Regions from separate parts of the Homo sapiens genome. Here regions 2 and 3 are each linked to region 1. Evidence: fine-mapped expression QTL. A gene starts in region 1. Each other region holds a variant in brackets. All regions are shown on one strand. Distances are between the middles of the regions.

Region 1 (10,413 bases):
TATGTAAGGAACTCATACAACTCAGTACCGAGAAAAAAACAAAACAGATAACCTAATTTAAAAATGGACAAGAGATCTGAACAGATGTTTTACCAAAAAACAGCCAATGGCCAATAGGTGCTCAATACACTAATCATCAGGGAGATGCAAATCAAAACCATAAGATACCTCACACCTGTTAGGATATCTATTATCAAGAAGTTAAATCATAACAAGGTCGGCAAAGACGTGGAGAAAAGGGATCCCCTCCCTGTACACTATTGACGGGACTGCAAAATGGTACAGTCATGATGGAAAACAGAAGTTCCTCAAACTAAAAACAGGACTACCACATGATCCAACAATCCTACTTCTAGGTATATATCCAAAGGAATTGAAATCAGTATCTCAAAGAGATATCTGCACTTTCATATTCATTGCAGCATTATTCAAAGTAGCCAAGATACAGAAACAACCTAAGTGTCTGTCAATAGATGAATGGATAAAGAAAATGTAACACACACACATACACACATAAAATATTATTCAGCCTTTAAAAAACAAGGAAATCCTGCCATCTGCAACAACATGGACAAAACTTAAGGACAGTATACTAAGTAAGCAAGACAAAAAACAACTTCATGATCTCATATATGGAATATAAAGACGTCAAATTCATAGGAACAGAGAATAGAACGATGATTACCAGGGGCTGGGAGGTGGGTGAAATGGGAGTATTTCAGTCAAAGGTACAAATTTTCAGGTATAAGATGAATACGTTCTGGGGACCTAATGCATGGCCCAGTAACTATCGTTAATAATGACATTTATTTCCATAATTAACATATATTGTATACTTGAAATTTGCTAAGAGAGTAGGTCTTAAGTGTTCTCATCCCACATACAAAAAAAGAGGGAGCTGTGTGAGATGGTGGATCTGTTAATTAGACTGATTGTGATTATCAACTCACAGGGTAGATCTAAGTATCGCACAGCACACCTTAAATATATACAATTTTTATTTGTCAATTATACCTCAACAAAGCTGGCAGTAGTGGGGAAGCAGTAGTTCATCAGAAAAATGAACACTTATGGTTACGGTAGGTAAAGAATGACTCATAAAGAAAGGATTTCAACAGCAGTTAAAGGATAGATAATACTCTGACAGGCAGAAATGAGGCAAGAGAGCATTCCAAGAAGGGAGTGTCTGTGATATCAAACTAAGGAGTTTGAACTCCATTCTTTCATCAACAGTGAACCCTAGAAGACTTCAGAGCAGTGAATTTATAAAGAAGGCTCTCTGGAGAAAGTAATAGAGTTAAAAGGGTGAGAAATGGGAATGCTGGGAAAATACAAATAAAATGGTCTTCCTGAGGTCAACACAGTTAATCACATACCTGATCCAAAGCTTGGTTCTTTTGACATATCATTGTTTTTTTCCATGATTAGCACATACCAATGGGAACTAAGTTTTTGCTCAGGATTACTAAACGACATATAATTTATTTTATAAGCCTAGTAATTATTTGCCCATTTCAGCTTTTTATTAGCTACCTACAACAGTGATATCTCACAAGATTTATATTAACACACTAACATCTAACACACTAACATATAACATGTCTCTTCATCCCTTTTATACACATCTGTCTTTTACAGTTGATGTTCAAAAATACTTCTGAAGCTAATTTAAATGTTTAAAGTCGGTGACCTGAAAAACGAGAATGTCTATACATCTAATTTAGAATGGCTAAATTCAAAGATACCATTCTGATGTTCACATATATAGACTTTCATAGTCACAGTTAGTATATTAAAGGAATAATTCTGGGCCCTCAGTACAGTACAAAATGTAATTCATCTCACACTACACCTACGTCAATCATAAATCATAACCTACCTTATGCAACAGTTTCATCCTCAAAGCTGAAACTAGTCCTTTTACAATAACCTTAGCAGAAATGTACCAACTGCCCCCAGTCAAGTTCTACCTCTACCACCCCAATCTAGCCTACACATACTGAGCCTTTTTTTAACACCATTTGGGGGGCTCCAAAATATAATATTGGGGCTCCAATATAAAAAAGCTAAGTAACTATCTAGAGGCTCTTTTGTTCATAAACAACACTATACTGTATTTCTCAAATTTGGGGTAGGAAATAATTCTGAAGAGATATGAGTCTAAACAGTGGAATTCCGAATACCTACTTAGAATAGAGGACAGTAGGTATAAGTAGTACATAAAAGTTCATTAGAAGACCCATATAATGTACAGTTAGAGATTTTAATAGAGATTCAGTCTTATGAATTATCACTGTACACATACAATTTCCACAATTCTTTTGAACATTGAAACAACCAGCTTAGACTACTAAACGACTGTCCCTTCCACAAGGCTAGTTGTCTCTTTTTAAAATATATCACTCCTAAGAGAGCCTGATTTACTAAGTGAGCCCTAACAAAATTTCAGGTAAGCAAATCTTGTTTTATCATCTCTACGAGCATGTCTCCCTGCCTTCAAATGCCCTCAAGCAGCTGTAAGACTTCAACTCTGTAAAATCCTGTAGATCTTCACATATTATTATAAAACTACTTGTATCTACAGCCTCTCAAAAATCAAAGCTTTTAGCAGCTCCATGAGAACTTTTTAAACCAATTCACTCTAAATTATGGAAGTATAACTGATAGCCCTTTAATTTACCTAAAGGCATTTTCACTTTTAAATGAAGTTTGTTAACCTAATTAACTTACATACTTTCAGGAAGTTTACAAATTAGAAAATCAAAATGAAAACTTTCATACAGAGTAAGAAAGGGCATATCCCAGGAAGAGAAGATTGGAAGCTGGAGTCTAGCATATGTATCCCACTCACCTAGGCATGTAATCATACACCTTATAATCACTTGGTTCAATATTTGATTTTTTTTTTTTTTTTTTTTTGAGACAGAGTCTTGCTCTGTCGCCAGGCTGGAGTGCAGTGGTGGGATCTTGGCTCACTGCAACCTCTGCCTCTTGGGTTCAAGCGATTCTCCTGCCTCAGCCTCCCGAGTAGCTGGGGCTATAGGCGTGCACCACCACGCCCAGCTATTTTTTTGTATTTTTAGTAGAGACGGGATTTCACCATGTTGGCCAGGATGGTCTCGATCTCTTGACCTCGTGAATATCTGATTTTTTTCAGTGACAACAAAGCTGGTGCCCAGAGACCAAGGTTAACCACTCATACTACAGTACTATACAGCCTCCTCTAAGGTATTCCTGCATTTCATTTCACTCCAGACCTCTAAACCCATGGGTTCCCTACAGCCTAACTTTTGCACAACAGAACTTAATAGTAGGGGTCCCTGGACTTCTGTGGAAAAAGGAAGTTGCATGTGAGGTGGGAATTTGAAAGAAGAGTATGAATAGTTTAAATTCCAGAACTGCCTTGGATTTCTAGATGTCGTATGTAACTCCAAAACCAAACAATAGACATGCTTAAGAATATTCACAATGTCCCTAAATTAAAGCATATGTTTATGCTTCTCTTATGGGGGAATAAAGTGGTTTACAGGCTTCTGGTCAATTCATAGGTCATATTGTTTACTTTTATTTAAAATTAAGTTAGGTCTGCCTTTTTAAAGGTAAGAAAAGTTAAATTTTAGACGAAAGTCTAAATTTGTTACATTCAAAAGGAATTATGTATTAAATTCAAAAGACAATTTAAATTCAAGTTCTATTTTTTTCTGCATGTGCTTTAAAGTTGAGTTATATACACCTAAACAAATTAAAAATTATTCAACTGGCATATACATTGTAAACGAATATCTCATTTAGGAACCAGATGATACTTTATATATATTTACACATATGTTTATATATATACACACACACATACATACATATATATTCAAAATACAATCAGGCACTAGACAAAATAGTCATATTGTTGGTATTACGATTTTATAAGTTTGTTTTGTTCTGATTTGCATTTGAAAATTAGATCAGCCAAAACTTGATGGCAAATAGTCTGATTTACAGCCCAACTATGACAGTCAAAGGAGACACCAGAATTACCCGTCACTAAATCCCATCACCAGTATTACCAGGGAAGTGGGTGAGGACTGTCAAGGGCATTACAGGTAATGGAACAGCAACACACAAAGATTTGGGGATTTTAACAAACTAAAACCAGTATTTCACGAACACCTAATAAGGACAAGATCACAACCTATCCCCACATGGTCAAATTAACTTGGAAAGGAGAAAAACTTCACTCTGACATCGATTGGTACTGCCTTCTTTGGGGAGGAAAAAAAGCATTTTTATACTCTGAACTCTGTCGTTCTCATAGACAAAGTTATAGCAGTGTTTGCAGAGAGTAGGGAGTATCCCATCCACCACTTATTTCTTTCTCATATCTACTCAGTAATTCAATACAAGAAAGAAAAAGATAACCAGGACTTAAAGCAAAAACAGAATTCAGTTCCATGCTCCTCCCAAGCCTTATTATTTCCAGGTGTTATAACTGGGAGTTCCGCGGACAGATTTGAGTTCTACTTCCGCTCCTTTAACCCCCTATTCCGAAGAGTCCAAGAGCAGCAGCAAAGAAAAAGACCAACTCGAAAGTGGGGAAGGGATGTTGGGGTTAAAGAGGGGAGTTAAATAACCAGACCTTTAGTGAAGAATAAAGAATTCAGGCTGTAGTTTGTAGAAATAAGTTATTACAGGCCTGTAAAGTCTGGCGCTGGGTAAAGCCCAAGAGGCTTTCCCTAACTCCAAAACGGCGACCTTTAAAGTAAGGGAGGGTTGGGGCACCACAGCGGCCGGATTTCTAATTGTGGAAAGTTTAAACAAATTTGTCCCTCGGGGAATGGGGGAAGGGAGAGAAGAACAAGTCTGGGCTCGGCCGGGGAGCGTGCGGAGTCTGCACGCCGCGGCCGTCGGTCCAACGCGGGGAGGCTCAGGGATTTTCGGCAGCAGCGACTTCATCCACCCCGGACCGCCGGCTGGAGGACGTGCCTGCAGCCGGCGGGTACCTGCGGCCAATTCGGTGGAACGAGGACGCGGACTGCGAAGGCAGGTGGGTCTGGCACGAAGGGGCAGGAGTCCTAGGCTCTGGGTGGAAGTTGGGGGTGGGACGGCGCCGGGAGGCCGGGGAGGCAGCGGCGAAAGGCGGCGGGCGGCTCTACTTACTCGGCTGTACCAGATGCTGAGGCGGGCCGCGGCCAGCACGGCGAAGAAAGCCCTCTGCGGGTCGGACTGAACGTGGAAAGGCGCCTCGGCCGGGCTCCCCAGAGGGCACAGCAGCCTCTTGGGCCAGCCGCTCAGAAAATACATGGTCCGTGCGGAGCCCCCGGCGCCCCCAGTTGCGTCCGTCACACTCAGCGGCCCCGGGCTGGTCGCCCACCTCCCACACCGCCACCGGCCGAGTCGGCGGCGGCGGCGGCGGCAGCTCGGGGCATCTGCCCGCTGGCCTGGCCGGGCCGGGCCGACGCAAGGCTGCGCGACGAAGGCACCCCCAAGCTGACGGGGCCGAGTGTGGGGGAGGGAAGGGGAGGGAGAGTAGGGACACAGAGAGGGCGGGAGGAGCGCGGAGGCCCGCCCCGACCCCGCCCCTTCCTCAGGCCGCGCGGGCGTCACCACGCCGCGCCGCGTGGGTCGGGCCGGGGAGGGCCCGCGCGCGCGCTCTGGAGACTCCTGCGGTCTCCCTAGCTGTTTCTTGAAGCTCTGCATAAGCCTCGCCCGCGGCCGCCGGGTTGCGTCCGCACTTCTGCGCGCTGGCCCCTCCCTTGCTCCTCTCCCTAGCAGTCTCCAGGGTTTTACCGGGAGGACCTAGGCAACGGCCTGAGACTCCGAGGCAAGTGGGGCGAGTCTAGGGATAACGCAGCAGCAAGGCTACTGGGCCGGTGGAACACGCCCTGGCCTGGCCAAATTGGACCTCCCTTCCGGATTGGCGGGGTCTCGGTGGGGGCGGGCCGGTTGCCGGGGGGAGCTGGAGTCACGTGACGGCCGGCGCGGTTTCCCACTTTGGGCTGCCGGCCGCTGTGGCTGTGGTGGGCGGTAGGGGCTTTTACCGTGTGAGCTCCTTTAATGCCGGGGTCTGCAGTGAGAGCTGGTGATGAAGCTCCTGCCGGTGTGGAGCTTACATCCCTAAGGGAGCGTTTATTTAATCAGTAAATAAACCACTCACCATGAAAGTATTGAGTTCTGTCTCCTGCCTTTCAGGAGTTCTAAATCTATGTCTTTGAAATCCATTTCCATTCGTCTCAGCCTTACCAGCCATAACTTTAGATGAGAGGAGGCTATCTCTTTCGTGCTGCAAAAGGCTTGGACTTAGTTTTAGAACTGGAAGGGACTGGTGATAGCGTAGGTCCATATTTAGCTTTTGGACCCCAGGTATCACCTTAGCTGTAACTTTCAACGGATTGACCCAGTGGTAACGTCTGAATAGAAGGAGGGTTGAGGGGATATGGTGTGGAATGGGGGAAGGAGGAGTCTGAAATAGAAGAAAGATTTGCTTCTCATTGTCTACCTTTTTTAGTACAGTTTGAATTTTTCCATATGTTTGTATTACTTTTTCAATTAAAAAGCCAGGTTTAAAAAATGACCCCACATTAAAAAGTAGCAACGTAGGCGGGGTGCTGGGGCTCACGCCTGTAATCCCAGCATTTTGGGAGGCCGAGGCGGGCAGATCACTTTAGGTAAGCAGTTCGAGACCAGCCTGGCCAACATCGTGAAACCCCCGTCTTACTGAAAATACAAAAATTAGCTGGGCGTGGTGGCAGGTGCCTGTAATCCCAGTTCCTCAGGAGGCTAAGGCAGGAGAATCGCTTGAACCTGGGAGGCGGAAGTTGCAGCAAACCAAGATCCCTCCACTGCACTCCAGCCTGGGCAACAGAGTGAGACTGTCTCAAAAAAAAAAAAAAAAGTAGCAACATAAACAGAAAAAAGGAAACAAAGAAACTTAATTCATATTAGATATAGCATTGTAGCTGGTATTCATAACCAAATATGTAACTTTCTGTAATTTTTCTAAACATTCACTGCATTCCCTGGAAGGTGATGATAGAATCCTGTATTCCTCAAATGGAGGTTGAAACTGCCTCACCACTCACCAGCCTGTTGCGATCAGATTGTCTCCTTGGCGTCTACCCTCCCCCAGTCCAACACAGCAGCCTGGAACATAGTAAGCATAGTAAGCTGGCAGTATTTGTCAGACAAACCGTGGAGGAAACCCTGATCCAGCTGAGCTACACCATTAGACAAAGAGGCCCAGAGAGGTTTCTTAACTTGCCAATTTCAAATTGTAGAATAACAAAGTTGCATCATACTTTCATCTTAGATTCAGTTATGCACTTGGCAGAAAGAGGAAATGAAAATGTTCTAGTGCAGCAATTTTGCTGGCAGTGTTACTGAATGTTTGTCCCAGCTGTCTCTCAGAGAGTCTTTGTTCTCATGTGTCTCAAGTTTGTCATACTGTGCTCATGGGCAATTTAAGGAACTTCTAAGCAATTTTTATTGCACTCAATTTTAACCTTACTTGCTGACTTTAGAAGCTTATTCCTCTGCCACACTCCTGTGTAGCACTTAAGATTCACAAAATAATTCCAAATGCTTGTCTTGATTTAATTCATAGTAAACATTCAAGGTGAGTGACATTGGTGTGATGTTGTTATTCTCACTTTCTCAAGTGAGGAAACAGGACAGGTGTGGTAGATGTGCCTGAATTCACATGGCCTGAAAAGAACTGATGTTCTTTCTACAGATCCAGTGTGATTTCTTTCTTTTTTTTTTTTTTTGAGGTGGAGTTTCGCTCTTGTTGCCCAGGCTGGCGTGCAATGGTGCCATCTCAGCTCACTGCAGCCTCCACCTCCTGGGTTCAAGCAATTCTCCTGCCTCAGCCTCTGGAGTAGTTGGGATTACAGGCATGCACCAACATGCCTGGCTAATTTTGTATTTTTAGTAGAGACGAGGTTTCTCCATGTTGGTCAGGCTGATCTGGAACTCCCGACCTCAGGTGATCCGCTCACCTCGGCCTCCCAAAGTGCTGGGATTACAGGCGTGAGCCACCGCACCCAGCCTCCTGTGTGATTTTTTTAAAAATTTAAGGTTTGGCTGGGCGCGGTGGCTCATGCCTGTAATCCCAAAACTTTGGGAAGCCAAGGCAGGCGGATCATGAGGTCGGGAGTTTGAGACCAGCCTGGCCAATATGGTGAAACCCTGTCTTTCTGCTAAAAAAAAAAAAATACAAAAATTAGCCAGGCATGGTGATATGCACCTGTCATCCCAGCTACTCTGGAGGATAAGGCAGGAGAATTGCTTGAACCTGGGAGGCAGAGGTTGCGGTGAGCCGAGATCGCTCCACTGCACTCCAGGCTGGGTAACAGAGTGAGACTTTGTCTCAAAAAAAAAAAAAAAAATTAAGGCTTATGGCATCCCTGCATCAAGTAAGTCTATTGTTGCTGTTTTTCCAACAGCATATGCTCTTTAGGCTGAACTAAATTGTGGTAATTGCTCTGGACAGTGAGAGGGAGTGGGGGAAACCTCTAGGTCTTTCTCCCTGGCGGGGAGAAAAGGAAATATCTGACTCTCCAAAACCCTATACTTGAGAGTTCCCCTATTGTGACAAAAATGTTATTGGCTGGATTTTTCAACATCATTTCTTTTTCTTTCTTTCTTTTTTTTTTTTTTTTTGAGACAGAGCATTGCTTTGTCACCCAGGCTGGAGTGCAGTGGTGCAATCTTGGCTCACTGCAACCTCCGCCTCCCGGGTTCAAGTGATTCTTGTGCCTCAGCCTCCTGAGTAGCTGGGACTACAGGCATGCACCACCACGCCTGTCTAGTTTTTGTATTTTTAGTAGAGATGGGGTTTCATCATGTGCCAGGCTAGTCTCCAACTCCTAGCCTCAAATGATCCACCAGCCTCGGCCTCCCAAAGTGCTGGGATAACAGGTGTGAACCGCCGTGCCTGGCTTCAACTTTCAAATATCATATTTTAACTTTATTTTGTAAAATATACTGACAGTTCTCATGCCTTAGGTCTTCTCCTCCTTTTTCTACTAGTTTCCACCACCACTCCTGTCAAAATTTTTGGACTCTGTTCTAAGATTAAGCTTATGATAAAAGTTAGTAGGGGGCCGGGCAGGGTAATCACGCCTGTAATCCCAGCACTTTCGGAGGCAGAGGTGGGCGGATCACTTGAGCCCGGGAGTTTGAGACCAGCCTGGGCAACATGGTGAAACCCTGTCTCTACAAAAAATCAGTCGGCACTGTGGCATACACCTGTGGTCCCAGCCCCTTAGGCGGCTAAGGCAGGAGAATTGCTTGAGCCTGGGAGGCAGAGGTAATAGTGAGCCAAGATCATGCTATTGCACTCCCACCTGAGTGAAAGGAATGAAATCCTGTCTCAAAAAAAAAAAAAAAAGTTACTAGGTGCATGTTTTCATCTATGAAACTTATAAACTTTTTAAATTACTAGAAATAATGTTGGTAAGAGTACACATAAGAAATGGGGATACATTTATACTCTCTTGATGGAAGTATGATTTGGTGCAATTTTTTTTTTTAATATAAGGTTTGTGGTAACCCTGTGTTGAGTGAGTCTATTGGCACCATTTTTTCTAATAGCATATGCTCACTTCATGGCTCTTATCACATTTTGGTAATTCTTTCAATATTTGAAACTTTTTCATTATTAGTATATCTGTTATGATGATTTGTGGTCAGTGGTCTTTGTTGTAACTATTGTAATTGTTTTGGGGTGTCATGTACCACATCCATGTAAGATGGAGAACTTAAGCGATAAATGTTATGTGTGTTCTGACTGTTCCATCAACTGGCAGTTCCTCTGTCTCTCTCCCTTTCTTTGGGCCTCCCTATCCCCTGAGATGCAACAATATTGAAATTAGGCCTGTTAGTAACCCAACAGTAGCCTCTAAGTGTTCAAGTGAAAGAAAGAATCCCCGTCTCTCACTTTAAGTAAAAAGCTAGAAATGATTAAACTAAGTGAGGAAGGCATATTGAAAGCAAAGATAGGCCAAAAGCTAGGCCTCTTGTACCAGTTAGCCAAGTTATGAATGCAAAGGAAAAAAAGTTCTTAAAGGAAAGTAAAAGTACCACTTTGGAGAACATAGGAATGATAAAACAAAACAGCCTTGTTGCTGACCTGGAGAAAGTTTTAATGGTCTGGGTAGGAGATCAAGCAAGCTACAACATTCCCTTAAACCAGACGCAGTGCCTCATGCCTTAATCCCAGCACTGTGGGAGGCTGAGACAGGAGGATTACTTGAGCCTAAGACTTCGAGACCAGCCTGAGCAATATAGCAAGACCCCATTTCTTTAAAAAAAAATGTTTTAATTAGCTGGGTATGATGGTGTGCACCTGTAGTCCTAGCTACTTGGGAGGCTGAGACGGGGATCACTTGAGCCTGGGAGTTCCAGATTACAATGAGCTAT
Region 2 (10,413 bases), 21 kb after region 1:
CCAGGCATGGTGGTGCGCGCCTGTAGTCCCAGCTACCTGGGAGGCTGAGGCAGGAGAATTGCTTGAACCTGGGAGACGGAGGTTGCAGTGAGCCGAGATCACCCCACTGCACTCCAGCCTAAGTGACAGAGGGAGACTTTGTCTTAAAAAAAAAAAAAGCCTCATTCAGTTTATGTTTGCATGAAATATGATACATAGTATTACCACATTCAGGCCATATGAGTAAATTATACATCCTCCAAAATTATATATATACATTTGTCTTTCATTTACTTATGACCATTTACTCAATGTTCTGTTTTTAACGTGTTAGCATTTTCTTTCATTATTCCAGTTATTAATGGTTGCATTTTCTGGAATCTCTTCTTATTAAACTTGGGTAAATATAGAATACATTTGAAAAGAACAGACCAAGAGAGAACTTCTGAAAGAAATTCCATTCAATCAAGCAATCAAAGAACCATCCAGTGTGTCAATATTCAATAATCCCCCAAAACCTTTGTCTCCTGTCTCACAATGACACTGTCAGCTTCAAGAACAGGAAACCATCATCAGAGGCTTCTTCCTAGAGACTGCAACCCCATGCTTTCCTTCCAGCATTGCCCCATCCACTCCAACTGGGTCCTCCTTCTTCATAGGTCCACCGTTTCTTTGCTCTTTGTCTTAGTTTTGGTTCCCCCAGAAGCCAGATCCTAAGGCATTAATATGTACACAAGTAGCTTACTTGGGTAGTGATCTCAGGAAATATGGGCAAGGGAAGTGAGACAAAGAGGGAAGGCAATCAATAAAAAGGGCATGTTTTCAAGTGGGTTAGTACTGTGGGTAATGGACTTAATCCCTCTGGAGAATTTTGGGTACCAGTGTAAAATTCATGCCTCTGAGTTACTCTACCAGAGTAGCAAAGGAGCTGAAGTATTCATACCCCAACTCCTATCAATCATTAGTTAAAGGCTGCACTTAAGGCATTACATCTCCTCAAACCTATGCTCACATATGGAGCTCCAGCCACCAGAGAAGGCCATTAAGCAAGATGGTCCAGCTGCTGGCACTTGGTAAGGCTCAGGAGACATGGGCAGGGCACCAACTGTATCTGCCACACTGCTATCTGTGATCCCAATCTAGTACACTAAGACCCATGATTAAAAGCCAGGGATTACAAAATAGGAAAGAAGATCAAAGGCTTTGGAGTCAGACTGATTGGTTTCAAAACCTGATTTCTTAACCTTTCTAAGCTTCAAAATTCCATAGAGGATTGTTACGGAGATTGAATAATGTAATCCATGTAAAAGTATCCAGTATTGTGACTAGCACATAGTACATATTCCCAAAAATGCTAGTTAATAATATTAACACCTGATCCCCTCATGGAGACATAAAACTGAACAGGACCTACTTTGTTCTCTGGCCAGATTGCCCAGCAGGGACCCAGCAATTCCAGTTTTGCTACTGGCATAGCATTTACACTGGTGTCGGTGAGCAGAACTGACTAAAGGACTGGGCCTCAGTTCAAGTAGTCATCAAGATATGGCCAGATGAAGCCCTGCATTGTCATCAGTGCAGAGTGGGTTGCTTCAAGCTGCGTGGGGCTCTATGGAACCCGGAAGAGTAGATGGATCTCCTAAGGAAGGAATAGGTTCTAGAGCAAGCCCACCTGGTGGTCCAACTTAGCCTCTTTACACTATTTTCCTACCCAGCCACTCAGTCTAAGTTTTTTAATGTTTATGAGAAAAAGGGAGAAAAGAACTAGTACTTATCCTTCTCAATATCAAGTTCTAATGCAGCAATATAACTGCCCTTCCAATAAGCAAAGTATTTTTGGAATTCCTTAGTTCAAATGAAATTACATGGTTCACATGCTCAAGGCATTTTTTTCCAAATGTTTTTCATTCCCAGTCAGTAGAGACCAGACTTTTGGAAAAACTCAAACTTTCATTAAAGCTCAGCCATGCAGGATATAAAAGCTGGGTGGGTCCACTTTGATTTTGCTTCGTTGCTAACCATTTCCACTTAACTGACAGCAAGAACAGATTTTTGGAAGAGAATGCAAAGGGCATGGAGAGGCCCGTGACATCACATAAAAACTCTAGCAAAAGAAAACTTAGAGAAGAAAATTTACTGTATTTTCCAAACAGCAGAAAACACTAATTTTTCAATTTTTAATATAGAATCTGAAATAAATATATAGCAAATTTATTTCAGTACAATATGGTATTTTTCTAAATCACTGATCATGAAGACTACAGTTGAAATACCAAATTTTAAAAAACAGCCACTAATATTTATAGACCCCTAATAAAAATATTGCCTTCCCTTGGAAAACCAAACATCATATGTTCTCACTCATAAGTGGGAGATAAGCTATGGGGATGCAAAGGCGTAAGAATGACACAATGGACTTTGGGGACTCAGAGGAAGAGTGGGAAGGGGGTGAGAGATAAAAGACTACAAATTGGGTTCAGCGTATACTGCTCAGGAGATGGATGCACCAAAGTCTCACAAATCACCACTAAAGAACTTACTCATGTAACCAGACACCACCTGTTCCCCAAAAACCTATGGAAATCAAAAATTAAAAAATAAAAATATAGGAAAGTGCTTTGTACATGTCAAAAAATGTTGCCTTTCTTAATAAAAATAAACGGTTCTCCAAAGTTCACTGGAAGGAGAATCTCCACATGGGGAAGAATAGCTAGATCTTACATCCTGCTAATTTTGTCTTCCCTTGGCCTGTGGGGGAGGGCGCTATTCCCCTCTTTACTATTGTCCTAAGACCAGGCAGTGGACTGGTTTGATCCCAAGAACACTCCCTAATAAAATTCCTTCACCCCAATCTCTGTCCAGACTGTGCTTCACTGAGAACCCAATTTGTGGCAGTTACCCATGGCCAAAGTACATAGACCTTAACACTTTAACTCCCCAAGTCTAGACCCAGAAAAGTGAGAACAAGAAAAAGTCAAAGCAGCTTATTGACTGTGTGGAAGTGGCTTTGTTCAATTGATTGGTGGTGGTAATGATCACTCCTTTACAGGAGGAAGTTAGCCTTTCTCTTTTGAGGTTTCTACATGATAACCATATTGGAATATATCCCAATAGGTAGAGTATCCATAAAATTGTGAGTTGTGGGTTTTGGGGGCATTTTGTTATACGCTATCTTAGAAATAGAGTCCAAATCAGTTAATAAAAAAGAAAAGGGAGAGTGACAATATTATTGCATAGAAACGAAAGAAGTACTGATACATCTCACTTTGTAAAAAAAGAAACACATTTCAGAAAAAGTTAGCTATGAATTATATTTTTATATTAAATTTTATTTTAAAGTCAGTAATGAAACACACCATCTAAAGATTTTTATGACAGTTTTTTGCAGCGAAAAGCTTACAAATTTACATTATTACCTTCCAATTTGTTATTTTGTGAAACTAAAAATGATAAAAATTTCTTTTTTTCTTTTTTCTTTATGAAAAGGGTTTCCCACTCAAAATTTATTTTTATCATTTAAAATGATAAATGATTAAAATTTTTTTATCATTTAAAAGTGTTACTCTTTTAAATCACTGAGATGATTTAAAATAAAGTATATTACTGAAAATCTTAAAACCACAGCAAGACACTTAATATAAAATTACATTAAACTCTAATTAGTTTCTTTTGGCCCAATATTTTTAGATAAAGAAATTACTTCAAGTTGCATATGCTATAATGTTCTTGAGATTAGCCAAACTTTTTCGCAGTACTGGAACTTTGTTGTATTATTATTGCTCAAAATAAATTCATTGACAAAGAGTTATTATTATCTCCCTAACAATTTTATTTCTAAGGCTATGTTTTGATAATGGTTTTAACATTCATCCTGGATGAGTGGCTAAGAATCTGGAAATGAAAATTAGGAATGTACTTATCCTCTTCTGCCAAAGAGTGTTTTCTTTTTCCCCCAGATTAGTAGTCACAGAGTAACCATGGATTATGGTTACCAAATTGGTACCAAATTTGGATCTCGTATGGAGAACTCGGCCTTAGCTCGAATGCAGCAATTCACATTTAAATAAAATGAATATTTAGATGCTGTGCTCAAATTTAGATAAGAGTATATTGTAGTGATTCTGGGGGAAATCAGTCTTAAGATCACATCTATTTGCAGTGGAATGAGGAATTTCCTTTGGAGAATAATTAGTAGAACTATTATTGCAAAGCTGCCTAAGCCCTCTTATGTGATATAATCAGAGGCAACTGGCAAAAGAACATGAGTCAAGAATATCCCTCGGACAGCCTGTACCTAGATCAAAAATACTGACGTGCACTCTCTTACGAAGAGTTTCAGATGCATAAGACTTTTTTTTTTTTT[A/T]AAAACAGGCTTCTAGGTAACAAGTCACTTCACTTCTCTGGGCCTCTTAAACTTCTCATATGAAAATAGACTAGATGAACCTGGAGAGACATTTTCTGCCTGATGTGGAAAGTGAAAGTGAAGAAATTAGCTGTATTTCCTAACACTCAGGAGGTAGGTGCAGGGTCCATAGCTCCTCCAGCTCCTGTGGATCTTATGCTTCAGCTTCTCTAACTCTTGGGTCAGAGGTGTGTTTAACTCCTCCTCCACCAGAGGTTTGGAGGTGGTGAGAGACCAATGCAGATTCCAGTCCATCCTCATGGATTCCAGTTTGTCCTCGCTTCCTGCTCTCTACCTCCTGACCACTGGTCCTGTGAACTTCAGCTCCAGCACTAGACACAGAAACAACAGCCTCCCCTAGAGAGTATAACCAGCTTCCACAATTGCATACAGTCAAGTCTCTAAATCCGTTTTGTCAATTTATCTTAGTAGTTCTACTTCTATGAACAAACCTTGACTGATTACATTTGGGTTGTTATGTTTTTAACAAAAAGTGCTACTGTGCATATTCATGTTCATATTTTCTGGTGCACTTGTGCAAGCATTCCTCTACAATATATACCTGAGCTTACATATTGCTGGATTGTAGAATGTACAGTACTTAACTTTGTAAGATAATGCCAAATCCTATTCCAGGGTGGTTGTGCCAATTTATGTTCACACCAGCATTGTTTAAGAGTTCCCGTTGATCTGTCTTTGGGAAAAATTAATATAGTAATATTTCTTTTTAAATGTTTTTTAGAGACAGGGTCTCACTATGTTGCTCAGGTTAGAGTCAAACTCCTGGGCTCAAGTGATTCTCCTACTTCAGCCTCCTAAGTAACTGGGACTACAGACATCCACCACTGCACCCAGCAGTAATACTTAACTTTAGTTCATCAGGAGAGTATAATATGTTTACTCATTATAATCTTAATTTACATTTATATGATCACTGTGAAGTAGAGAATCTTTTCATGTATTTTTTCTTCATTCATATTTCCTCTTTTGCAAAATGACTATTCATGCCTCCCTTTTTTGTGGCATTGTTTGTCATTTAATTATTGATAAATAGAAAGAGTTCTTCATGCATTCTGGAAACAAATCCTTTAGTGTTATATGCAGTGGTGTACTGGAGCTGGCTTGTGTAGACTCGTCTGAGAGATTTTGTGTATGTCTTCCTAACTTCATGTTTAGCAACATCATGTTGGTGGCTTGAAATAAACTTTTCCACCTTGAAAAGAATCAAACCCAACAAATCATGGCTTTTTTCATCTCTGCAAAGCTAGGTTTTTAAAACATGTATGGGCGTACCACTAGTTATATATAGCAAATATCTACTACTGGCTTGTCGCTTGTCTACAAATTCTTGTTTGGAGTATTTTGAAAAATAGAAAGTCAAATTTGTTAATCTCTTCAGTTTTAGATAAGTTTTTTGGGGTGTTTTGTGTTCTCAGTTTCAGACAAGCCTGTTTTTGTTTTGTATGTGTTTTCTTTACCCCAGGAAACTAAAGATATTATCCTATAGATGTTTAAAATATCAGCTTTCACATCCAAGTCTTGCATGCATCTAGAATTGACTTACGTATCATGTTGGGTAGGAATCCAGTTTCATTTTTCCCCATATTCTCCCAGCACCACTTATTGACTAATTCTCCCTTTCTTGATTATATACAATACCACCTCTGTTATATATGATGTCCAAATATGTGTGGCTCTGTTTCCCAAGTCTCTACTATACCATTAACCCATTTGTGTATTGCAGCGTTAATACCACTCTCTTAATTAACTTTGTAATCAAAGTCCTCAAACAGGATAAAGCATACCTCCTACCTTGTTCTTCTCCAAAAGAGTCTTTGTTATATTTTTGACCTTTGTTCATCCATAGGAATTTTAGAATCAGCTTCTTAGTTTCTTGGGAAAAAAAGTGTGATTTGGCATCAAATTACACTGAATCTGTAGGTCAAATTGGGAAAAACTGGTAACTTCACAATAGAAAGTCTTCGTTTTGAATGTCGTCTTTTATTTATTTCTATAGTAGATCTTCTCTGATGTTTATCAAATAGAGTTTTAGAATTTATTCCATATAGGTCTCCTATAACTTCATTAGATGTAATTTATACTTTTTTGTTGTTATGGTGTATTAGTCTTTTATGCTGCTAATAAAGACATACCAGAGACTGGGTAATTGATAAAGAACAAGAGGTTTCATAGACTCACAGTTCCACGTGGCTCGGGAGGCCTCACAATCATGGCAGAAGGCAAAGGAGGAGCAAAGTCATGTCTTACATGGCAGCAGGTAAGGAAAGCTTGTGTAGAGGAATTCCCCCTTATAAAACCATCAGATCTCGTGATATTTACTCTCATAAGAACAGCACAGAAAAGACCCAACCCCGTGATTCAATTACCTCCCACCGAGTCCCTCCCAAGACATGTGGAAATGATGGGAGTTACAGTTCAAGATGAGATTTGGGTGGGGACATAGCCAAACCATATCATATGGTAAACTGCTTTTATACTTTTTAAATTTTCTGTTTGTTGCCAATGCTTAGAAATATATTTGGTTGTGCGTATTGGTCTTCTATTCAGCCATGTTGGTTAGCTCTGTTATTGTTAAATTATTATTTATTTTTGAGACAGAGTTTTGCTCTTGTTGCTCAGGCTGGAAGTGCAATGGCATGATCTTGGCTCACCGCAACCCCTGCCTCCCGGGTTCAAGCGATTCTTCTGTCTCAGCCTCCTGAGTAGCTAGAATTACAGGCGAGTGCTGCCACGCCTGGCTAATTTTGTATTTTTAGTAGAGATGGGGTTTCTCCATGTTGATCAGGTTGGTCTGGAACTCCTGACTTCAGGTGATCTGCCCTCCTCGACCTCCCAAAGTGCTGGGATTACAGGCGTGAGCCACACACCTGGCCAGCTCTGTTATTATTACCAAGAATTTGCCTGTAGATTTTGTGGGACTTTCTGTTTAGAGAATTATATCCTTATGAATGAAGTATATTCCAATACTCCTACCTTTTATTGCTGTTCCCAATCTTTGTACTTGTTGCTGCTTTTTCTTGTCTTAATGCACTTAGAAAATCCACTATAATGTTGAGTAGAAGTAAATAGGACTTCTAAGTCTTGTTCCTGATTTTAATAAGTCTGCTCATTATCTGCTGCATCTTTTGAGATTATCATATTTTTCCCCTGTAGTCTGTTAATGCGGTAAATTTTACATATATATATATATTTTTGTTTGTTTGTTTGTTTGTTTGGTTTTTGAGATGGTGTTTCACTCTTGCTGCCTAGGCTGGAGTGCAATGGTGCGATCTCAGCTCGCTGCAAACTCTGCCTCCTGGATTCAAGCGATTCTCGTGCCTCAGCCTCCCGAGTAGCTGGGATTACAGGTGTGTGCCACCACACCTGGCTAATTTTTGTATTTTTAGCAGAGAAAGGGTTTCACCATGTTGGTCAGGCTGGTCTCAAACTCCTGACCTCAGGTGATTTACCTGCCTTGGCCTCCCAAAGTGCTGGGATTTCAGGCATGAGCCACTGTGCCTGGCCAATGAATTATATTTTTATATTTTCTTTTCTTTATTATTATTATTATTATTATTTTGAGACAGGGTCTTGCTCTGTTGCCCAGGCTGGAGGGCAGTGGTGCCATCTTGGCTCACTGTAACCTTCACTTCCAGGCTCAAGTGATTCTCTCACCTCAGCCTCCCAAGTAGCTGGGACTACAGGCATGTGCTACCAAGCCTGGCTAATTTTTGTATTTTTTTTGGTAGAGACGGGGTTTTACCATGTTGCCCCGGTTGGTCTCTAACTCTTGGGCTCAAGTAATTCACCCACCTTGGCCTCTCAAGGCACTGGGGCTACAGGTGTGAGCCACCATGCCTAGCCATATTTTTTATTTCCTAATGTTTAACTGCGCTTGCATTTCTGGTTAAACTCAACTTGTTTATGATGTATTATCTATTTGAAATAAACTCCTAAGCTTGTTTCATTAGTATTTAATTTGAATTTGTAGCTATGTTTATGAGTGAGATTGGTTCAAAAGGTTTCTTTATTGTCCTGTCCTTCTTTGGTTTTGCTATCAAGGTTACGTTAATATCATTGAGTGAATTGTGTCATAGTCCCTCTTTTTCTGTTTTATAGGACATTTTTAAAGATTGGAATGATCTCGTTCTTGAAACCTAGGTGTAAGTAATTTGTAAACATATCTGAACTAAATATTTTCTTTGTGGGAAGATTTAAAAATATTGATTGCATTTCTTTGGTAGATACAAAACAATTCAGGTTCTCTGTTTTTGAGTAAGTTTTGGTAAATTATAGTTTTCTAGGAATTTGCCCATTTCACCTAAGTTTTTGAATATGTGGCCTAAATTGATTCAGAGTAGCTCATCTAAAAAAATCTTTGCCTTGTCTGTGATTAGGTCCCTTTTTATTCTAATATTGCTTATTTGTGCCTTCTTTTTTTTTCCTCGCTCAATCTCAGCAGAGATTGTTCTGTTTATAAAATAAAACTTTTAATTTTGTGGATTCTTTTTTTGTAGCTTTGTTTACTTTTTTCTGAACCTCTGTTTTTATCTCTGTTATCTATTTCCTCCTACTTTGATTGTTTTTCTATTTTTCCTCCTAATTTCTTGAGTTGAACACAAAGCTCATTAATTTTTAACCTTTCTTCTTGTCTGAAACAAGCTTTCAAATTAATAAATTGTCCTTAGAGAATGACTTTGACTGTTTTACAGAACATGGTAGGTGATATTTTCATTATCATTCGGCTTTTAGGATTTTTACATTTCTTCCATAATTTTTTCTTTGACACATGAATTACCTACAAGTGTGTTTCCACATTTTTCAATATATAAGAACTTTTATAGATTTATCTTTTGTTATTGCCTCTAACTTAATTACTTTGCGCACAGAGAATGAGGACTGTGTTATAATTTTGTGAGACTTGCCATATGGTCTAATAAATGGACAATTTTTGTAATTGCACTATGATATTTAAGAAAAATAAGTGCATTTGCCAACTGTTGGATGCAGAATTTTTATCTATTTGATTGTTATTAATTGTGTTGTTCAGATCTTCCATATTTTTAATATCTTTGCTTTGGGTGGTCTGTTGGTAATTGAGAGAGATATATTGAAAGCTCTCATTGGCAATTTCTCTTTGTAGTTCAGTAAATATTTGCTTTATATATTTGAAACAATTTTTCTAGGTGTAAAACTTTGAAGTTATTATATCACTGACAATTGGAACGTTTATAAAAATCAAGTAGTGGTCCCTCTCTAACTCTAACGATACCTATTTTCATCAGTCTATTTTGTGTGATTTTTAATATACACTTCTGTTTTTTTGGTTACTGTTTTCCTGCTACATCTTTCAACCATTTTGTGTCTTAAGTTTTAGGTTTTTCTTTTGAAAGAGCATGTAGTTAGAGGTTTTTTGTTTGTTTGTTCCCCAATCTGTCTTTTACTATAAAGTTTAGATTTATATTTATTATAATTATTAATATATCTAGACATTTTCTACCACCACACTTTTAATTTTTATTTGTCCAACTTTTATTTGGCTTTCCCCCTTTTCCTTTATTGCTCTCTACTCAGTTGATTGGGGTTGGGCTTTTGTTTGTAAGTTTGTTTTCTTTTTCCATTTTTCTCTCTTCTATTTTAGAAGTTATTGGACTTTTTGTTATCTGAAAATTGACTATAGTGACTTAGAAAAATTGCACCGAATATTCTGTATCTGAATAAAAAATCCACTGCAATGAATTCACATTCATCTGCTAGCAAAAGACATTGAAATTGCATGTAAGTCCAAATGAAAAGATGTAGAGTCCATTTCAGTCATAGCCGTTCTCTAGTAAGCTCACATATTGTGCTCCCATTACTTAAATAGGCATGGATTGTCACTATTACTGTATTTTCCACATTATTAAAGTGAAAAAGCTTATTAAAGGACAGAAAATGCCATAGAGAAAATAAGTGAATGTAAAATATTCACTGCATGGACACCAGACATTTACTGTTGTGCTCACTCCTTTACCAGCTCACTCTTGCCTAAT
Region 3 (10,413 bases), 110 kb before region 1:
GTTGGACTTTATGATCTCTTAGGTCCTTCCAGCTTGAAAAATTCTATGAGCCCATTTTCATTGTTTCAGCAGTACAAAACAATCAATGTGGCATTATTTATGTTATTTTTAAGGAAACTGATAAACTAGGTAAACTCAAGTTTTAAAAGTTCATCTGTCTAAATATCTTTAGCTATCTAAAGAACAGAATAACAGTGGAATCTTGCTAGTACCCAAAGTCCTAAAATCAGTGTTAAAATGTTTCTCTTATATGGGGTACTTCATAGATGCTTAAGAATCACAGAATCACTGAGTTTTTGAGCTGGAAGGAAATTCAATTTTTGTTATTGCCTGATCGATTTTTTAGTTCCAGACCTACCTTCTTTGATCCTCTGCTCTACTTGGCTCTCTGGTAACACAGACCTGGCTAGGCAGAACTGGCATTGATGCTAGGTCAGTGTAGAATGAATAGTTCAAAGTATGGGGAAATGAAAATAGCAGAGAAATGGCTATAGGAGAGAAGGGAGCAGTGGAAAATTTTAGTCAAGGAAGTAGCTAGTGCAGTTTTATTTAAAAATTGTTACTAATTATAAAATGGTATGTACATTGTTTGATTCTATGAATTTATTAATGTAAGTTAAGTTCATTTTCTTTTAGTGTATACCAGATGTCAATGTAGGAGATAATCCTTCAACCTTTCACATGACCATTTTTTTGTCTCTCATTATCTTCACTCAAAGTCAACTGAAAATAACATGGGAGCTGAAGTAGGCTAGTAGGGTAAACATATAGAGAGTCAAAGTAAGGCAAAGAATTATGGAAACAGAAACTGACTAAAAGAAACTAAGAGTGGGCTTTGATGTACCTAAAATATTTTGCTATCAAAAAGGGAAAGAAAACAGTCGGAAGACTGAAATTATGTATGCAAGTTTCTTTTAAGAAACTTCAACTTACTGGTTTCCCCAAAATAATTTTACTTGGTATCAAAATTGAGAATTAATTTCCATGTTAAATGTCAGTTTATCAGAATTACTGTGAGACACTGTTAATTTAAAAGTGATATCAGAATGAATAAATAATTTGGAATAAGATTAGCTAATAAAAGTATTAACAATAAAGCTCTCTACTGATCACAAGTCTGCAATTTGGGTCCAAAGTCACATGATTAACCTCAACGTGGCCCCTTAAGACTGTAAGGTCAGCTGTACAGAGTACTAGCTGATGTTGCCACTTTCCATGAGATTATTACACTTTGTTTTGCCTGTGCAAATCCGTAGAGCTAAATTTATACAAAAAAAGAGGCTGAAAGTAAAATAAATAGTTCTCAATGAGAAGGCAAAACATAAACTTCTAGTTCTTGACATTATTAATAGACTTGAAACAGGTGGGGATACACTCTACGCCAAGTGGAAAGAAAGGAGGGAGAAGACTAGAGGACAAGAACACAGAAAAGCAGAAGAGGGACATGACAAAATGGTTAAAAGGATTCTCAGTTGCCTGAAGTTAACAGATGAAATATTTAATAATCTGTTCCAGGTGATATCCTATCAAAGAATAAGTCTCTAGTAATCAGTAACTAAAGATTTACCTGTACAACATGCCAATGCCGATGTCCAAGTAAAGTGCTTAATCCCTGAGACTCTAAACCTCCATCTGCAAATGGGCTCTTTTCTCGACTGGGCTTATGCTCAGAGTGTGTTGAAGAACTCCTGGGATTCTGGGTTTGTGAAGCCTCTCCACAGTTCAAGTACAAGCGATCCTCACCCTGAAGCAACACCTGCTCTTGGTTACTCTAAATGAGGGAAAGAGGAACAAAAGGGCAAAGGAGGAAAACAAATAAAAACAACTCAATATTACGCAGGCAAAAATAACACATCGATTTAGTTTTATTATAGGAAATGTACATGTATCTCGATGTTGATTTTCTTCACAGAGGACAAAGACTACACAATAATCTCATGCACTGTTATAATTAGAAAGAATAGTGCTCTTAGTGACTATGAGATTTCAGCTAGAAAGCCAGTGTTCTCAAAGGTGAGTAGACTCATTAACTATTGAAATCAGACAAAGTAGCACCCTACCCTTGTCATTTTTCCATTTTAGTCCAAATGCTGGCTTGACATAAAACTCAAGGGTGCTTTTAAATTATTATTTGGGATGGGGAAGGGGAGGGAGAAATGCTCTCTTCTTTTCTGGGGATCCTTAGTCTTCAAGTGGAATAATGGATCTGAAATTCAGGCTATTTTCACATTTTTTATGGATGTTCGTAAATTTTAATTAGAAATTTGTTGTACCAAATATCCATTAAAAAGCCATTGATGGTAGGTATTAAGATACACATTTCTAACATGTAACATATACCATTACTGTATATTAGCGATATATAATAATATTAGTATACACTATTTCAGATAGAAATACAAGAGGCAGTGTTTGGGGCGGTGTTTCTAAAAGCAAGTCCTCAGACATACTTTCTTTAAGCTATTTCTTAAAAATTCACAGTTAAATAAGCATGGGGAACACTGTTTTTAATATACCACCTCCTGGATTTTCATGATGCACAATGGCATATTTAAGCCTCTGGAGCCCTACAATCAATCTCTACAATTTTGTTTTACCTTTATTTGACACTTATATGGAAACAAAACTTTTAAAAAATCCTGTGGAACTGCTACTAATATCTCTCATAAGTAGTGCCTGGAGGAACACACTTTGGGAAATGCTATTCAGATAAAGACTAAATTACTCAAATTATTTAAATAAATATATAAACATTGCTTTCCGTCAAATTGCTTATGACCCTTTTAAAAAAATAAGACCAAAGAAACACAACCCGTTGAGAAATAAAATTTTGGTATAAATTTAATATAAATTAAAAAGAAACACAAGAATCATAGAAAAGAAGATAATATGCCAATTTTAGAAGTATACGCCATACATATGTCATAAAGAAGGGTCTGAGCTTCTAACACAAAAGACACTAAAAAATCAGAGCTTTAAATATACTTACCATACAAGGGTTTACAGTGAGTACACTCTTAATAAACTGAAATAACAGGATGCTGGGCTGTTTAACTACACTCCTGAGGTCAGACTCAATTTCAGTGTTTTGAGAACCAAATCCGCTGATTACCCATAGGTGATAGCCTTCTGCACCCCAGCTCTTAGAGAGAAGAGGAGGGAGAAAAAAAGTCAGAGCAATAAAAGGCTTTTGTATCCCTTTCTAGCTTCAATTATTCAAATTCTGAAATAGCCAATGATAGCATTATTAATGATTTGTGAAGGTTGGAGAAACCGTGATAACACAGACAAGAATCACACCTTCAGTTACCTCTTAACTAACTCCAGAGGAAATCACCATCACTGCTCTCTATCTGCAAAAGTGAAAACATTACCTACCATTCTTAATGCCAATTTCAGGGTCTTAATCCTAAAAATACCTACTGTGCTCTGTAACTTCTCTATTGCTTTAATTTAGCTGCCTCTCAAATACAAAGAAATTCCTTACAGAAGACACCCCAGGTTACCCAGTAGAAGCCTGGCAAAGAAGCCCCTACAACAGATGCAGTTTTGTATGGAGCAAAAAACATTGGATTGGAAGCTGTGAGACTAGAGTCTTCATTATAGCTTGGCTTTTTGTATATATTACCTTGGCCAAGCTGTCTCGTTTCTCGGGATATAAGTTTCTTCCTCTGTAAAATGAGAAGGTTCAAATAAATTCCTCCAGAACCATTCAGTTTTAATATTCTGTAACTAGACTCCATGATAGTATTTTTAAAGATTAGTGATTCTCAATCTTCAAGCCAAGAAAATGGTGAAGGGGCAGGGGTAGCCCATGAATTGTTGCAAAATTTCAAAAGTTTAATAGAACTTTTATGTTTTCCTATGATAAAGCTGCCTAAGTTTTAACTAATAATGCTTAGATTCTTAGTTTGTGGTTAAAATATCAACTTAGTGAGACGGACAACACTGGTTCTTGCATGCCATTCAGAAGCACTGATTGGTATTTATAGAAATGTGTGGTGAAAACTTATTTTAAACTATGGAGGTGGGCAAAGACATCAGAAGGGGTCCTTGGTGGTGAAAGTTTGGGAACCACTATTTTAGGCAACCATGGCGGTTTTAATTCTACAAGAAACTCAAGATCAGAAGAATGTCTTCCTCTGTGGAGCAAGAGAGAAGAGAAGCGACAAGCCTCATAGTCACTAATTTAAAAAGGATGGTATGCAGAGGGGCTATAGCAAGAAAAACTTGTTATGTAAAGACAGGGGTTTTATATCTCTGTTTTCTACAGAAACTCTTGAAAATAGGTAAAAAATAAAAATACAGGTTAAGCCTCCCTAATCCAAAAATCTGAAATGCTCCAATAGCTGCAACTTTTTGAGGGCTGATATGACACCACAGTAAAAAAATCCCACACCTGACTTCATGTGATGAGCTGCAGTCAAAATTTTGTTTTATGTACAAAATTATTACAAATTCATTACATTAGCTTCAGTCTATGTGCATAAGGTATATATAAAACATAAGGGAATTCTGTGTTTAGACTTGAGTCCCATCCCCAAGAATGTATTTGCAAATATTCCAAAATCCAAAAAGTTCCAAAATCTGAAATACTTCTGGTTCCAAGCACTTTGGTTAAGGGGTACTCAACCTGTATTGTTTACAACAGTGACCATAATTCTCTTTGACATACATCTATGTAAATTTTAAAAAATATGCTCAAGGTACTGTATACATATATATAGATATATAGATACAGATATCCTCAAGTAATGCACAAGTGCATGTCCTCCAGGAAAAATGCCCAATGAGCATTTCACCTCATGTTAAAAGCAAGCAGGCCATGAGAAGACACATACAAAAAAGGCCTCATCTGAACAGTCATTATCATCATAAAGATGACAGGGGTTTGCTGGCCACATCTAAACAAAATGCAAATACTGAAAACCAGGCAGCCTTCCAATTAAAAAAAAACAAAAGACTTTCATCAAGCAAGAACTGTATAATGAAGAGTCTGCTGAGACTAAAATAGTTTTGTGATTTTATCAGATCAACATGAGTGAAAAAAGGGGGCCAGCCTGGGCAACATGGCAAGACCACGTCTCTACTAAAAATCAAAAAAATTAACCGTGTGTGGATAGTGGTGTGCCTAGAGTCTCAGCTACTTGGAAGCTTGAGGCAGGAGGATCGCTTAGAGAGGCTGCAGTGAGCTATGATCTGCCACTGCTCTCCAACCTGGGTGACAGTGTAAGACCCTGTCTCAAAAAATTAAATAAATAAAAATGAGTGAAAAAAGGGAAGAAAAATCCAAGTTTTTTTAATACCATGCCAATTTTTTATAGAAAGTACTTACCATAGAGTTGATCTTAAGGGGATCTTTTTTGGTGCCATCAGACCTATAACTGAAACAGAACAGAAACTAAATATAATACAGCCTTCCAATTACATATAATACACATAAAATTTAGTGTTTTTTAAAAAATCAAACGGATTTTGCTCCTTTAAAATAGAAATACATAATAATGCATGAAATACAAAACTGTGGGTTAATACACCTAGGTGTATATATCTCTCAGCCACATTTTCCGAGGTCCAAGTGACTTCTTGCCAGAGATATGCAGCTTTTAAAGGTGTGCTCATTTCATCAGAACTGAGGTTCAGGGTAGTATATGAAGTGGGCAGAGATACCAACCTACTCCTATCAATCACTGGGCTAACCTACATTAACCTAATGAGATAACGTAACTTTCTACTATTTATGTACATGCCTTACCACCCTCATTAGATTATAAACTACCTAAAAGCAGAACCATGCCTGATTCTGCTTTGTGTCTAACATGCTGTCATATATACAGCAGGGGTTCAATAAATAAATACATTTTTGTGGAATGAGATGTACATTTTTTAAAAAATGAATGTTCAGAGAATCAGTATATTCGAACAGATTATGAACTTTGCAAATTGTTTTAAGGTAAGAGTCAAGGCAAAAAGGGAAGTTCTGACACAAGGTTTTTGTATGCATGCATTGTGAGAAATAATGGAGTTATTTTATCTAAAAATTGTCTTTTTTGACTTACGCAAAATCTCCTCCAAGTGTACAAATCAGCTGTGCTCCAAAAACACTCCATAAAGAAAGGCCTCCGTATTCCCAGGTCACTATTACAACACTATTGTCAGGAGACCATCTCATCAATTTAACAGCTCCTGTTTTATTCCAAATGTCTGTTAGGAAATAGTGAGAAGAGTTAAAAATAAATAGTTGCTTCAGAAATACTTGTTTTTTTTTTTTTTTCAAATACAATCTGTATTTTCAAATCTAAATGAGTAGAAAGGTATGACTGCTTCCAAAAATAAATCCTGGTCATTTAGGACTACTTAAAGTTAGTAAGGCCATTAGTTTTGTCCTGATCTAAGCAGAACAAACTCAGTGCACAGGTGATTTGTAAGAAGTGAAAGCTGTTTCTAGTCACTATTAGCTTGATTAACTTATAACTG[C/T]GTAATCTTAAAAGTCTTTGGCTTTGTATAAATCAGTTTCTGTAAAACAAGGATAAGGTTACAGTAAAAGCTGTCTTTAGAAAAAAACATATGCAGGCCTTAAAAAAAGCTACACAGTAAGAATGATTAAAAAAACGTAAGGAGCAAATTTCTATTTCTGGAAGTACAGCAAATGACACCCTGAATGACTTCCACACTGAAAAAACTAAGATGGTGAATAGAATACTTAAATCCTCAAAACAATAAAAAATACTGAGACAAAGTGCTTGTTCCCTGAATTTTTCTGCCAAACCCTGGAGACCTTTACTTCTACCTCTGATGACTCACAGCATGTTAGGAACAGGAGATAAAGCTCAGAGCTTGCCCAAGACAGGTAATCTAACAAAAGATACCCATGTAAAGCTGGGACTACAATGGACTATATCCATGGTATAAGAGAGAATGAGAAAAAAGCCTCTGCCATGTAGGAAAAGAATTAGCAAGGAACACTTTCATGTTTCATCAGTGGAAGTGAATGGAAAATAATACTCCCTTGATAATCTGAAGCCACAAACCCTCACTCTGATTTGTAATTTGTGCAATTTAATGTGGTTCAAACAGAGAATACAATGCAAAGGGTCACAGACTGATGTAGTGCTCCCAAGTGACCAGCGGAAGCAAAGAAATTTAAATCCTCTCTGGAAAAACTCAAATGTTATCCAGTTCTCAAAGCGCTACACACACAAAAAATATGCTTCAAGGAAAACAATCGGCTCTCAGTCAAAAATCCTAAAATACACACACAAACGAGCAAGAACACAAAGAATCAAGACATGGCAGAAACAGACTCAGAAAGGCTTCAGATTTTGGGATTAACAGACACAGAATATAAAATAACTGCTTTTTATAGCCAATGAAAATAAAGGAGAAGACTCAAACAAGGAGCAGGATGCATACAGATTGGAAAAAGAGCTAAATAAGCCTTTAAATAATAAAAAATACAATAACTGAAATTAAGAACTTGATGGACAGATCAAACAACATTATTAGGCATAACTGGAGAGGATCAGCAAACCTAGATGGAGAAAAAATTTCTAGAATGCAGTCTAGAGAAACAAAATTTTAAAAAATTTAAAGTTAGGTTAAGAAACATGGAAAAAAGTGTAATGTATATCTGAGTTCCAGAAAATAGATTAGGGGAGAGGAATATTTAGAAATACTGGTTGAGAATTTTCCAGAAATAGTTCAAAGATGTAAATCTTCATCCAGCAAGCCTAAGTCTCAAGCAGGATTTGAAAAACAAACAAAATTCTTCCCTTCCACATCACAGTTGAACTGCAGAAAGCCAAAAACAAAGACAAGATCTGAAAGGTAGCTATAAAGACCAATCTATTGAAAAGAGAAGACAACTTGACAGAGGACCTCTCAATAGCTGCAATGGAAATCCAATGGCACTGGAACAAATTCTTCAATGTATAAAAAGAAAATAACTGCCAATCCAAAACAGCACACCAAGTTAAACTATAATTAAATCACAGCAGCAAAATAAGTACATTTCAGACTCTCCCAAAGTAGAGTTTACCTTCAAAAAACTTCATTAAAAGAAATTCCAAGGGATGTATGGGAGGTTTTTCAGGCAGAAAATGGTCTCAAGAAGAAGGTATGAGTTGGTCAAAGATATGGTGGGCAAAAATACTGGTATAAATGTGGGTAACACTAAGTCAACATGAATAGTTAAATATCCTAATTGTGATGGTTAACACTGAGTGTCAACTTGACTGAATTGAAGGATACAAAGTATTAATCCCGGGTGTGTCTGTGAGGGTGCTGCCAAAGGAGATTAACATTTGAGTCAGTGGGCTGGGAAAGGCAGACCCACCCTTAATCTGGGTGGGCACAATCTAATCAGCTGCCAGTGCGGCTAGAATATAAGCAGGCAGAAAAATGTGAAAATAGAGACGGGCCTAGCCCCCCAGCCTACATCTCGTGTGCTGGATGCTTCCTGCCCTCAAACATCAGACTCCAAGTTCTTCAGTTTTGGAACTCGGACTGGCTCTCCTTCCTCCTCAGCCTGCAGATGGCCTATTGTGGGACCTTGTGATCATGTGATCATTTATTAATACTTAATAAACTCCCCTTTATAAATATGTATGTATCTATTCTATTAGTTCTGTCCCCTAGAGAACCTTACTAATACAGATATTGGTACCAGGAGTGATTCTAGAGGTACAGAATATTAAGGATGGAGTTCCTTCATTGGTTTTGGGGTTTCTAGAGTTGGCTGCCTAATATCATTAGACCCCAAAATGCTAAGGACTCTATTTCTAATAGTACGCACTGACAGTCCTTGACGTGAACTGTTTATATAGAGTTATGCAAAATAAATGCATTTGGCACTCCTGATTCATTGCTTGTGAGACGCAAGGAGTTTAGTGACTCTATACATAACACCTTTGACCATATGTGGAGAATCAAGGAACATAATGAAGCTAGTTGGTTGCTCCTAAGTTCAGTGAACAAGGTGATGAAAGAAAATGATGAACTCAGGGATTCCATCTCCCAGAAGCAGATACTGAGCCTCAAAACTGCTAAGATTGCCCTGAGTGAGGGTCTTATCTCCTATAGAGAAAGAGCTAAAATTGTGGAAACACAGAGACAAACTCTTATCATTTGAGTGGCTGATCTGCAACAAAAGGTGCATGCACAGCCTCACCAGGTGTCTACTGTTAAAGTGAAGGCACTGATTGGAAAAAAATGGGACCCTGCAACTTGGAAAGGGGATGTGTGGGAGGACCCTGATGAAGCTAGATTCACTGAGTTTGTAAACTCTGGTGAACCTTTTTTTTTGCCAGAAGAAACAGCTTTCCCCATCCCCAATAGTGGCAACATCCCCTCCTGGACCCATGCTGCCATTAGCCCTTCCACCTTTGTCTGAGGATTATAAACCCTGTGCTGCCTGAGGCAACAGTGATGCCCTCCCCTGAGGCAGTCGCCAGGCAAGATAATGTTGATTCTCCTCAGGAGCCACTCCCAACACCTCTGTTTGCTTCTAGACCTATCAATAAAGTCCTGGCAGGCCTCTAGAGGTGAGGTTGAGAGTATGACCCATGAGGAGGTGCACTATGGGAACTGCTTGAGTTTTCTAATTTACATAAATAGAAATCTGGAGAGTAGGCATGGGAATGGATATTAAGGGTGTGGGATAATGATGGAAGGTACACAGAGTTGGATCAGGCTGAATTTATTGATTTGGGCCCACTAAGTAGGGATTCTGCATTTAAAGCTGCAGCTCGGGGAGTTAAAAAAGGTTCTAATAGTTGATTTGCGTGGTTAGCTGAAATATGGATTAAAAGATGGCCCACTGTGAGTGAGCTGGAAATGCCTGATCTCCCTTGGTTTAATGTAGAGGAAGGGATCCAAAGGCTTAGGGAGATTCAGAAGGTGGAGTGGATTAGTCACTTTAGACCTACTCATCCCAGCTGGGAGGGTCCAGAAGATATACCCTTGACTGATGCCTTGCAAAACAGATTTACAAGGGCAGCAGCTACATCTTTGAAGAACCCTATAATTGCACTTCTCTGTATGTCAGATCTAACAGTGGGAACCTCAGTCACTCAACTACAAAATTTAAATACAAAATGGGAATAACTGGATCCGGAGGTAGCAGGGGCCAAGTGACGGCACTCAACTATCAAAGGTAAGGTGGGCGTAGCTACTGTAATGGACAGCAGAAGCAAAGCAGCAATCAGAATAGTCTGACTTGTGTAGAACTTGGGCATTGGCTAATTAATTATGGTGTTCCTGGAAGTGAAACTGATAGGAAGCCTACTGCATTCCCACTTAATTTATACAAGCAGAAAACTTCTAGGTCAAATGGACAAAATACTAATTTGAATTATTAAAACAGAATCACGGCCCCTCAATCAATTTCCAGACTTGAGCCAGTTTACACACCCA

The links. PIP is the estimated chance that this variant, and not a neighbour inherited with it, causes the effect.
Region 2: its variant is fine-mapped to the expression of INCR1 in whole blood (INTERVAL, PIP 0.93).
Region 3: its variant is fine-mapped to the expression of INCR1 in sun-exposed skin (GTEx, PIP 0.97).

The regions. Positions count from the first base shown.
Region 1 is chr9:5,624,192-5,634,604 of GRCh38, reverse strand. INCR1 (interferon stimulated noncoding RNA 1) reads left to right here and starts at 4,878. Exons shown (of 3, transcript XR_007061406.1): 1 at 4,878-5,038. It overlaps RIC1 (RIC1 partner of RAB6A GEF complex), which reads right to left and starts at 5,498. Exons shown (of 26, transcript NM_020829.4): 1 at 5,152-5,498. The coding sequence starts at 5,295. RefSeq lists enhancers at 4,678-5,178, 7,089-7,308 and a silencer at 5,199-5,738.
Region 2 is chr9:5,603,023-5,613,435 of GRCh38, reverse strand. The region is part of intron 1 of INCR1 (interferon stimulated noncoding RNA 1); the gene reads left to right. Among named protein-coding and RNA genes, the nearest start is that of RIC1, 21 kb to the left of the region's middle. RefSeq lists an enhancer at 4,363-4,412. The variant A/T (reference allele first, on the strand shown) is at 4,343.
Region 3 is chr9:5,738,660-5,749,072 of GRCh38, reverse strand. RIC1 (RIC1 partner of RAB6A GEF complex) reads right to left here. Exons shown (of 26, transcript NM_020829.4): 9 at 6,060-6,204; 10 at 5,336-5,384; 11 at 2,990-3,142; 12 at 1,568-1,771. Among named protein-coding and RNA genes, the nearest start is that of ERMP1, 89 kb to the left of the region's middle. The variant C/T (reference allele first, on the strand shown) is at 6,478.